Regions from separate parts of the Homo sapiens genome. Here region 1 is linked to region 2. Evidence: fine-mapped expression QTL. A gene starts in region 2. The other region holds a variant in brackets. All regions are shown on one strand. Distances are between the middles of the regions.

Region 1 (5,381 bases), 39 kb before region 2:
AGAGAAAGAAAGAAAGAGAGAAAGAAAGAGAAAGACAGAAAGAGAGGAAGGAAGGAAGGAAGGAAGAGAAAAGAAAAACAAGAATGATCATAGCTGCACTATTATAATAGTCCTAAGCTGGAAACTACTCAAATTCCCATTGACATCAGACTAAAGAATGAATGACCTACCACTACATGCAACATTATGGATGAAAATACAATTGATGAAAGAAATTTTCTCAAAAAATGCTGTATAATACAATTGATATAAAGTACAAACCAAGCAAAATTAATCCATGCCACAAGAACTCAGTATCAATTTCCTGCAAGAGAAATGGGGGGGCTTCTGAGCTGCTGGTAATGTTCTGTCATTTGGTCTGGGTGCTGATTTCATGGGTGTGTTTAATTCTTAAAATGTATATACATGATCCATCAATAAAAAGTTTCTTAAAATATTCATCTCCTTGCCCTAAGCCTCATTTATATCTTTATGTCAACTCAGCTGCTGCACCGACCCCATAAAATGAATACAATAGGACTAACCTCTAAACCTGCTCCGCTTCTCTTCCCTTCCAGACTAGGATTGATATTTTCCTTCCAGGACTGGGACTCTTGTTTAATTTTCTTTTATTCCCTCTTCTTCTTTTTTTTTTTTGAGACGGAGTCTCACTCTGTTGCCCAGGCTGGAGTGCAATGGCGCAATCTCAGCTCACTGCACCTCTATCTCCTGGGTTCAAGCAATTTTCCTGCCTCAGCCTCCCGAGTAGTTGGGATCACAGGTGTGCGCCACCACACCTGTCTAATTTCTGTATTTTTAGTAAAGACAGGGTTTCACCATGTTGGCCAGGCTGGTCTTGAACTCCTAACCTCAAATGATCCACCCCACTTGGCCTCCCAAAGTGCTGGGATTACAGGCGTGAGCCACCGCGCCCAGCTTCCCCCTTCTTTTCACAAGTTTGATTTCTCTCTCTCTCTCTCCCTCTCTTTTCTGCCTAGGACTCTTGATCCAGTCCCACCTGCTGGTGTAGGGAGGGAAGATAGTATAGCCCCAACCAGCTAGGAGGCTGCATAAGTGTAGGGGAGGAAAGTAACTGCCAGGGGCAAGGTAGGAGATGGTGCCATATTCCAGAGTTGAAGGTTAATACCAGCTAATGGTCTTTCCGTTACTGCCTTCCAGGTATTTGCAACAAGGATTAAGGAGGAGAATAAAACTCTAATGCAATAAGCTTCCATCATTTGTAATGAACTAACTTATATTGTCCTTATTGTTAAAAGATTCATTTATTAAAAAGATAAAATCATCAGCCTGGAGTGGCAGCTCATGCCTATAATAGCAGCATTTTGGGAAACTGAGGTGAGAAGATCGCTTAAGGCTGGGAGTTCAAGACCAGCTTGGGCAATATAGTGCAACCCCCTGCTACATCATCATCATCATCATCATCATCATCATCATCATCGTCATTAGCCAGGCATGGTGGCTCATGTATGTAGTTCTAGCTACTCAGGGGGCTGAGTTTGGAGAATCACTTGAGCCCAGGAGGTCAAGGCTTCAGTGAGCCAAGCTTGCATCCCTTCACTCAAGCCTGGGCGACAGAGCAAGACGCTATCTCAAAAAAAAAAAAAAAAGATAAAATCATGACTCTCCAATGGCAGATTATAACTAATTCAAAGGAGAAGTCAGAAAAGCTCAATTATATGGAGCAAAGGAATGTTGAAACACATTCACCAACAGAGCTCAAGCCAGCTTCTTCCAGGGTGGGAAAGGGAAGTCAATTGAACCTCTACTGGCAGGATTAAATGTACAGATCTAGAGCCAAGAATTAGTTTTCATTTCTATCAGTTATCTACATTTTACAAGCTGTAAAATGGCTCCCATGGAATCAAAAGCAGATAAAGTGAAAGGGTGTGCTATAGACAATACTTAATTTTCCATTGAAAGAAAATTTTCCTACACTTTCCCTCTCTTTTGATAAAAAATAATCTCATCTATTCCTGTGTAATTCACCAATAGTAACATATCAAATACACCTATTTATTTCTGGCACCTCTCTTTTCATAAGGGGAAGTAACAAATCTTTTGTGATTTTCAATGGTATGTCTGGGAAAGCTCAGCTATCATTCCTTTTATTTTATTTTATTTCACATTTAGGACTAATTTTGGGAATGCAAAATACAAAATTGTCAGGAGATTTGAATACTTAGTGTAGGATCATAGGCATCTGAGAAGTAGTACTTGCCTACCCATTTGTAAGAGACAATACAACATTTAAAAATAGGCCAGGTGCAGTGGCTCACTCCTGTAATCCCAGCACTTTGGGAGGCCGAGGCAGATGGATCAGCTGAGGTCAGGAGTTTGAGACCAACATGGTGAAAGTCCACCTCTACTGAAAATACAAAAAATTAGCTGGGCGTGGTGGCAGGCACCTGTAATCCCAGCTACTTGGGAGGCTGAGGCAGGAGAATCACTTGAATCCAGGAGGCTGAGATTGCAGTGAGCAGAGATCACATGACTGCACTCCAGCCTGAGCAACAGGAGTGAAACTCTGTCTCTAAAAAAAAAAGAAAATAAATAAAAATAAATAAAAATAAAGATAGAAAATAACATGATCATAAAGAACTTTAGCTCCCTCCTAAATAACAAATCTTGTTTCTTTAAATAACCAAGGGCATAATAAAATCAACATGAAAATCAAAAAATAATTCTGGTAAAACACTGAATCTTTGCTATCTAGGTAGATTTACATAGAAAAAAAGAATAACCCTTCATAGTATAGGTGAAGACAACAAACAGTAAACTAGGGAAACAAGGCCATGAATATTAAACAAAATTTTTTAAGATTGTTAGTAAATTTCATGTGTTAAAATGCATATGATGTGTTTTATATGCATTATATATTATAAAATATTATACATTATATGATAAACCGTATGGTCTTATAAAAGCAAACTTTTATAAGATTTTTTTTTTTTTTTTTTTTTTTGAGACAGAGTCTCCCTCTGTCGCCCAGGTTGGAGTGCAGTGGCGCGATCTCGGCTTCACTGCAAGCTCTGCCTCCTGGGTTCACGCCATTCTCCTGCCTCAGCCTCCTGAGTAGCTGGGACTACAGGCGTCTGCCACCACGCCCGTCTAATTTATTG[T/C]ACTTTTTAGTAGAGACGGGGTTTCACCGTGTTAGCCAGGATGGTCTCAATCTCCTGACCTCGTGATCTGCCCGCCTCCGCCTCCTAAAGTGTTGGGATTACAGGCGTGAGTCACCGCGCCCGGCCCTATAAGATCTTAATAACATTTCATAGTGTCTAACATATTTCAGAATCAAGTATTTTATTTATATATATAATGTGTTACGTGTGTGTATATATATATACACACACATTATATATATAAATATAGATTTAATCGAGACAGGGTCTCACTCTGTCGCACAAGCTGGAGTGCACTGGTGCGATCTCTGTTCACTGCAACCTCCGCCTCTTGGGATCAGGTGATCCTCCCACCTAAGCCTCCCGAATAGTTTGGAACTTACAGACACACACCACCACACCTGGCTACTTTTTGTATTTTTTAGTAGGTTTTCCCATGCTGGCTAGGCTGGACTGGGAACTCCTGGGCTCAAATGATTCGCTGGCCTTGGCCTCCCAAAGTGCTGGGATTACAGGTGTGAGCCACTGCGTCCAGCCCCCAAACTCAGGTATTATAAATCAAAGCAAATAAAATTCACTTCAGGCCAGGCGCATGGCTCATGCCTGTAATCCCAGCACTTAGGGAGGTCAAGGTGGGTGGATCACCTGAGATCAGGAGTTCAAGACCAGCCTGGCCAACATGACGAAACCCTTGTCTCTACTAAAAATACAAAAATTAGCCAGGCATGGTGGTGCATGCCTGTATTTCCAGCTACTCAGGGGGCTGAGGAAGGAGAATTGTTTGAACACGAGAGGCAGAGGTTGCAGTAAGCCAAGATAGTGCCACTGTACTCCAGCCGAGGCAAGAGAGCTAGACGCCATCTAAAAAAAAAAAAAATCATGTCAGCATGCTCTTTTGCATTCTATAGTAAACTCGCCCTTTATTTTAGGACCAATCTCAAGGGGCCCATGAGGTCAGAACTAATTTCATAATACTGCTGAGGTATATTTATTGTACTTCATTCATTGTTGCTATTTTTAAATGAATCATTAAATAAGCTTTCTTAAAAGTTATGTTTTATAGCAGCTGGGCATGGTGGCTCACGCCTGTAATCCCAGCACTTTGGGAGGCCAAAGTGAGTGGATTACCTGAGGAGTTCAAGATCAGCCCGGCCAACATGGTGAAACCCCGTCTCTACTAAAAATATAAAAATTAGGTGGATGTGGTGGCAGGTGCCTGTAGTTCCAGCTACTCAGGAGGCTGAGGCACGAGAATCACTTGAACCTGGGATGTCTTGGGTTCACTGAGCCAAGATCATGCCACCGCACTCCAGCCTGGGTGTCAGAGCGAGATTCCATCTCAAAAAAAAAAAAAAAGTATGTTTTATAGGTATGTGCTGAGAGGAATGAAAAAATGTTTTTTAGAAAGTTATGTTTAAATGTTTAACAGTAAATACTAATAGCTATAATCCACAAAGAAAGCTCTTTGGTGTCCTCAATATGTTGGAGGTGTGTAAAGAGGTTTCACCAAACAAACCAACCACAAAAAACTCCCAAACCCCCTGCCCCAAACCAAATCTGGGTACTTTAAGACAAAACTGCTGCTTTAAGATAAAACTACAGTTCTTTGTTTTCCTTAAAATACAGAAGGCCGGGTGCGGTGGCTCACGCCTGTAATCCAACACTTTGGGAGGCTGAGGTGAGCGGATCACCTGAGGTCAGGAGTTCAAGACCAGCCTGGTCAAAATGGTGAAACCCCATCTCTACGAAAAATACAAAAATTAGCCAGGCATGGTGGCGGGCACTTGTAATCCCAGCTATTTGGGAGGCTGGGGGCAGGAGGATCACTTGAACCTGGGAGGTGGAGGTTGCAGTGAGCCGAGATCATGCCATTGTACTCCAGCCTGGGCAACCAAGAGTGAAACTCTGTCTCAAAAAATATATATAAATAAATAAGGCCGGGTGTGGTGGCTCAGGCCTGTAATCCCAACTCTTAGGGAGGCAGAGGCAGGAGGATAGCTTGAGCCCAGGAGTTTGAGACCTGGCTGGGCAATATAGTGAAACCCTGATCTCCACAAAAAGGAAAAAAAAAGACAAAAAAAACCCCGAAAAACCCACAAGTGTAAAAAAAAAGTATATACACTTAAATTATGCTTCATAATGCATGTTTTAGTCTTTCATTTTTCCTAGAAATTATTTATGTACCCAGCAGATATCCATCAATTAAATGAGTACAAGGTTTTGAGTTACCTAAAGATCTTTGAAATTATTCTAAAGTAGACA
Region 2 (5,381 bases):
AGGGATCTCGCTTTGTCACCCAGGCTTGAGTGCAGTGGCCTGATCACGGCTCACTGCACCCTTGACTTCCCGGGCTCAAGCGATCCTCCCAACTCAGCTTCCCCAAGTAGCTGGAATACAGGCATGGCTACCACGACTGACTAATTTATTTATTTATTTATTTATTTTAGATGGAGTTTCACTCTGTCGCTTAGGCTGGAGTGCAGTGGCACGATCTCGGCTCTCTGTAACCTCCGCCTCGCGGATTCAAACGACTCTCCTGTCTCAGCCTCCAGAGTAGCTGGGACTACAGGTGCATGCCACCACGCCCAGCTAATTTTTGTATTTTTAATACAGACAGAGTTTCACCATGTTGGCCAGGCTGATCTCCAACTCCTGACATCAGGTGATCCGCCCTTCTCGGCTTCTCAAAGTGCTGGGATTACAGGTGTGAGCCACTGCCCATGGCTAATTTTGTGTGTGTGTGTGTGTGTAGAGATGAGGTTTTGCCATGTTGCCCAGGATGGTCTCGAACTCCTGGGCTCAAGCGATTTGCCCGCCTCGGCCTCCCAAAGTGCTGGGATTACAGGGGTGAACCACCATGCCTGGCTGACTCCTATTAATACATTCCACCAAAACCATTATTTTATAAAAGATATTAGCAAATTTTGAGTTTATGTGCTTTGGCTAGTTTCTTTACTGCAGAAACTGGCTCCAGCCAAACCTCTGTTTAATTTAGAATTCCTTTCTCGGCTTTCCCTTTTTGTACGGCTAAAACTGAGAATGATCCACTGCATAGAGATGGAAAATAAGTGAGATAAGGTTGTGACATTTTAATAGCAACTGCTTAATCACATAAATTTTTCGTAATCTTAACTTTCAGCCTCTGTATTGTAACTTCTGTCAGCTAAGACTTTTCTGAGAATAACTCAACAGTTTCAAAATGTATTGTCCCATTCAAATCTTTGTCAAGAGCAGTACTACCTCTCTCACGATGTTGTTTCACATCTGAAAGTTAAATAATGCACAAATATCACTGCATCCTCCCAAACCAAAGGGAAAGGGGAGCATCTGCCAGCTCCACAAGATCCCAATTTGAAGTCCCCAAAGCTTTCCTCCAACTATATTCTAACTAGTCACAGACACTAAATCGTAGAACAGAAATGCACCTTTGAAAATTTTCAGTTCAACACCTCCATTGTACATATGGGGAAATCAGGACATAGGTTGTCAGATTTGACACCAACAAACAACACTGTGGACAAGACAAATCTCCAATCTCCAGGATCTATTGGTATACCCAAATAGCTTCGCCTTCCTTCAAAATTTTACCACCTTATCACTTGACGTTAGGAGTTCGAGGCCAGCCTCACCAATACCCATGTCTACTAAAAACACAAAAAAATAGCTGGGCATAGTGTAATCCCAGCTACAGGTAAAGACATGAGAATCGCTTGAACCTGGGAAGCAGAGGTTGCAGTGAGCCGAGATCGCCCCACTGCACTCCAGCCTGGGTGACAGAGCGAGACTCCGTCTCAAAAAAACACAAAACTACCACCTTAGCCCCCAACCTACTTTTCCACGCATCTTTCTCGTTATCCTTTAAACAGATTATTTCTCAGCCAAACAAACGTCGCTCTTTTTCTAGGTACAGCTTTCTTCTTGCTTCCACACCTATGTCAGAACAGTTATAGCCTCTTTATCCTCCCTTACCACTTAAATCCTACCCATCCTTTAGATTTATCCCCGTTTTCCAAACAATTCCTATTGGCTCAAACATTCTGCTTCGGAAGCCCTATTCTGACTTGGCAGGCCTATGGCAGTCTGTTAACTTGACTTTCCGCTTCGTGAGAGGCTTAGGCTCGGATAACCCGTTAGTAACCATGCAGAGGTGAGGACCCAAAGACAGGAACACTAGAAAGCAGAAACTATCCTAAGAGCCCACCGAATTTCCGCTTACATGAGTAACCGAGACAACCGTCAGATGCGCGTGCGCACAGGCCCCGTTCCCAGAGCTCCCCTCGCCCTACGAGGGCCCGGCGGGCCAAAACAGAGGCCCGCCCCGCCCCACCCCACGCCTCACCGCGAAGTAGCCCAGCCCCAGGACTGTGACCAGAGAGGGCAAGGGTCTTGCTGGACGGAAATAGGCGGTAGCCGCATTGCTGGCCTCCGACTTCACCATCCTCTTGAAAAACCCAGACACAGAGTTGGCTGGGAGCTCCCCAGCCGTCCCCGCCCCCATATAAGAAAAGCCTGGCTAGCCGGTTTCTCAGGGCCCTGGGCGCCCGCCCAAGACCCTGGCGGACCAGTATGCTTGCTCTCATTGCGGAGTCTGGTCCCCTCCCCTCCGCTCCTAGCGCGCGGGAGTCGGGATTGTGCTTGCACGACTTCCCCCGGCCCGCGGCCTGTGAGCCCAGGTCCTGGGGTGAACCGAGCGCTCGCTCGTTCGTCAGACCGTAGCGCTCCAGCGGCTGTCCTTACTGTGTAGTAGCCAAAGCTGAGGGTGATGACTGTGAACCAGAACAGACTGCCTCGCTGAAAGTAGGTCGCGCCGGCTGCCGTAGCCATGGCTGCAACACCTCCCCGGGAGCGCGCTTCAGGACACCGTCGAGCGCGAGCGCGGAGGCAGGGCCGGGGCCGGCCCGCGCTCCCTCGCCATCCCCGCAGGGAGAAGATGGTGCTGGTTGGGAAGTCCCTGAGAGCGAGTCTCCCTGTCTGGCCCCAGTACAGGGGCCTTGGAATCACACCTGGGCTCAGGTCTGGAGGGCTGGTCATCATCTTGTAGGGGAGACACTCCTGTCACTTTTCTGGGTTTAAGATAAAGATGTTCGGGCTGGCGCGGTGGCGTGTCCCTGTAATCTCAGCACGTTGGGAGGCTGAGGTAGAAAGATCCCTTGAGCCCAGGAGTTTGAGACCAGCCCGGGTAACATAGCTAGACTCTGTCTCGAATGAATGAATGAATGAATGAGGTGTTGGAATAAATTCCAGCAATTTGGGAGGCCGAGTCGGGCAGATCACTTGAGGTCAGGAGTTTGAGACCAGCGTGGTCAACATGGTGAAACCCCGTCTGTACTAAAAATACAAAAAATTTGCTGGGCGCGGTGGTGCCTGCCTGTAGTCCCAGCAACTCCAGAGGCTGAGACAAGACTCTCTTGAACCTGAGAGGTGCAGGTTGCAGTGGGCCCAGATCACGCCACTGCACTCCAGCCTGGGCAACACAGCAAGACCCTGTCTCAAAAAAAAAAAAAAAAGATGGTGTTTTACTAAGAGTCTAATTTTTGAAGTTCTCTGTGCTGTGCACCTTGAGAAATAATGCTGTCCTCATTAGTTAAGATGTTTGGAACTATACAGCACCATGGTTATGAGCAGGGACTGTGAAACAGGCTGCCTGGATTTAAGTCCTGGCTCTGTCTCGGCTATTTGTGTAAGCTTAGATTAATTACTTAGCCCGGCTGTGTCTTAGTTTCTGTATCTGTAACATGAGGATATGCCAGTTTTGGGAACCTCAGGGTTTTTAGGGTGGGTTAAATGAGTTGATATCTGTAAAGAAAGCACAGCAGTGTCTGGCCCATAGTGCTTTGTAAGTGTGGGTGATTATCAATACTGCTGAGCCTTTAGCATGTGTGCCAGGCCCTGTGCGAACTGTTGTATCATCAATGAGCTGTGGGAGGTATATGCAGCTGAAGTGTCTGATTAAACACTATTTAATCATAGAAATAGAAAATCATAGAAATAGAAAAACTATTTCACCTGGGCCTTAAAAATGGGTTACTGGCCAAGCGCAGTGGCTCAAGCCTATAATCCTGGCACTTTTGGAGGCCGAGGTGGGTGGATCGCTCAGGAGTTCGAGACCACCCTGGAGAACATGGTGAAACCCTGTCTCTACTAAAATACAAAAAATTAGCTGGGGGTGGTGGCGCGTGTCTATAGTCCCAACTACTTGGGAGGCTGAGGCACGAGAATTGCTTGAGCACCGGAGGCGGAGGTTGCAGTGAGCCGAGATCCAATCACTGCACTTCAGCTTGGGCTATAGAGTGAGACTCCGTCAAAAAAAAAAAAAAAAAGTTACTATACTGTAGCTGGTATTTATTGAACACCTACTATGTTCAAGGCATTGTTCTAAGTACTATACAATAATTAACTAATTTAATTCTTAAAACAATCCTAGGCAGTAAACTATTGTCCTTATTTCAAAGAAGAAGAAACAGCACAGGGTCCTGTCATGCCCAAGTGGGTGAGGAATACTGGAAAACAATTGGCAGCTGAGTGTTCCAGTTCCAGAGAGGGCACTCTGGAACCAACCAAGGTTCTCTTTCCTCATTTTTTACGTGAGTATCTTGGGATATAAAGTCTTAAAGAATGAATTTCAGAATATGTGAGGAAATCCATTTCCCAGGTAGACCACAGTGCTCTTGAATATCAAGATTAACAGTAACAATTGTAACAATTGGTGTTTTCTTAGTCCTTATCATCCTTGATCACACCACCCTCTTTATTCTTCTCCTCCTTCTGAATAACTCCTTGTTTTCTCAGCTTTCCTTTTCTTTCTTCTCTCCTAGAATAAGTTTTGCTTATTATCTTCTTTGTGTTTTCAGTACCTATCAGATTCAATTTTCACCTTCAGCTGACTAAAATAATCTCTTCAGCCCTCACCTCTTCCCAGTTGGTCACCTTTACCAAAGATTACTCACACCTCAAAGACAAGAAGTCCATTATCATTATCCACAGAGTCCATCCTCACCAAGGCTACCCTGTCTGTGGTTTTTTTTTTTTTTTTTTTTTTTTTTGAGATGGAGTTTTGCTCTTGTTGCCCAGGCTGGAGTGCAGTGTTGCGATCTCGGCTCACTGCAACCTCTGCCTCCCCACTTCAAGTGATTCCCCTGTCTCAGCCTCCTGAGTAGCTTGGATTACAGGTGTGCACCACCACGCTTGGCTAATTGTGGAGACGGGGTTTCACCATGTTGGCCAGGCTGGTCTCGAACTCCTGACCTCAGGTGATCTGCCTGCCTCGGCCTCCCAAAGTGTTGGGATTACAAGTATGAGCCACCTCGCCCGGCCTACTCTATGTGAACAGCACTTTCTTTCTACCTTGTACCCAGATTCCTTGCTTTGACTTCCCCCATATCATATAAAGATTGCAGACTAATCAGCTGTCAAGAGTTCTACTGATTGGGTAATACAATATCTAATCCTTCTAGATTAAATCATGGCTTCATCTCCACTGTCTCATGAGTCAGTCACTCCTTCCTACTTCCTGCCACTTCAGCCCACATGCAGTCCCTTTATTGAATCTGTCTGACAAATAACAGGATCATCTTTTTCAAGTACAGTTCTGATCAAGCCTTTACCATACCAAAACTTTTTTTTTTTTTTGAGACAGAGTCTCACTCTATTGCTCAGAT

Evidence for each region. PIP is the estimated chance that this variant, and not a neighbour inherited with it, causes the effect. A credible set is the group of variants that fine-mapping cannot tell apart.
Region 1: its variant is the best candidate, but not a certain one, in a credible set for the expression of TMEM254 in whole blood (TOPMed, PIP 0.70).

Annotation. Positions count from the first base shown.
Region 1 is chr10:80,114,919-80,120,299 of GRCh38, reverse strand. No RefSeq gene overlaps it. Among named protein-coding and RNA genes, the nearest start is that of PLAC9, 15 kb to the left of the region's middle. The variant T/C (reference allele first, on the strand shown) is at 3,120.
Region 2 is chr10:80,075,866-80,081,246 of GRCh38, reverse strand. TMEM254 (transmembrane protein 254) reads right to left here and starts at 2,582. Exons shown (of 4, transcript NM_025125.4): 1 at 2,461-2,582. The coding sequence starts at 2,547. TMEM254-AS1 (TMEM254 antisense RNA 1) reads left to right here and starts at 2,054. Exons shown (of 4, transcript NR_027432.1): 1 at 2,054-2,520.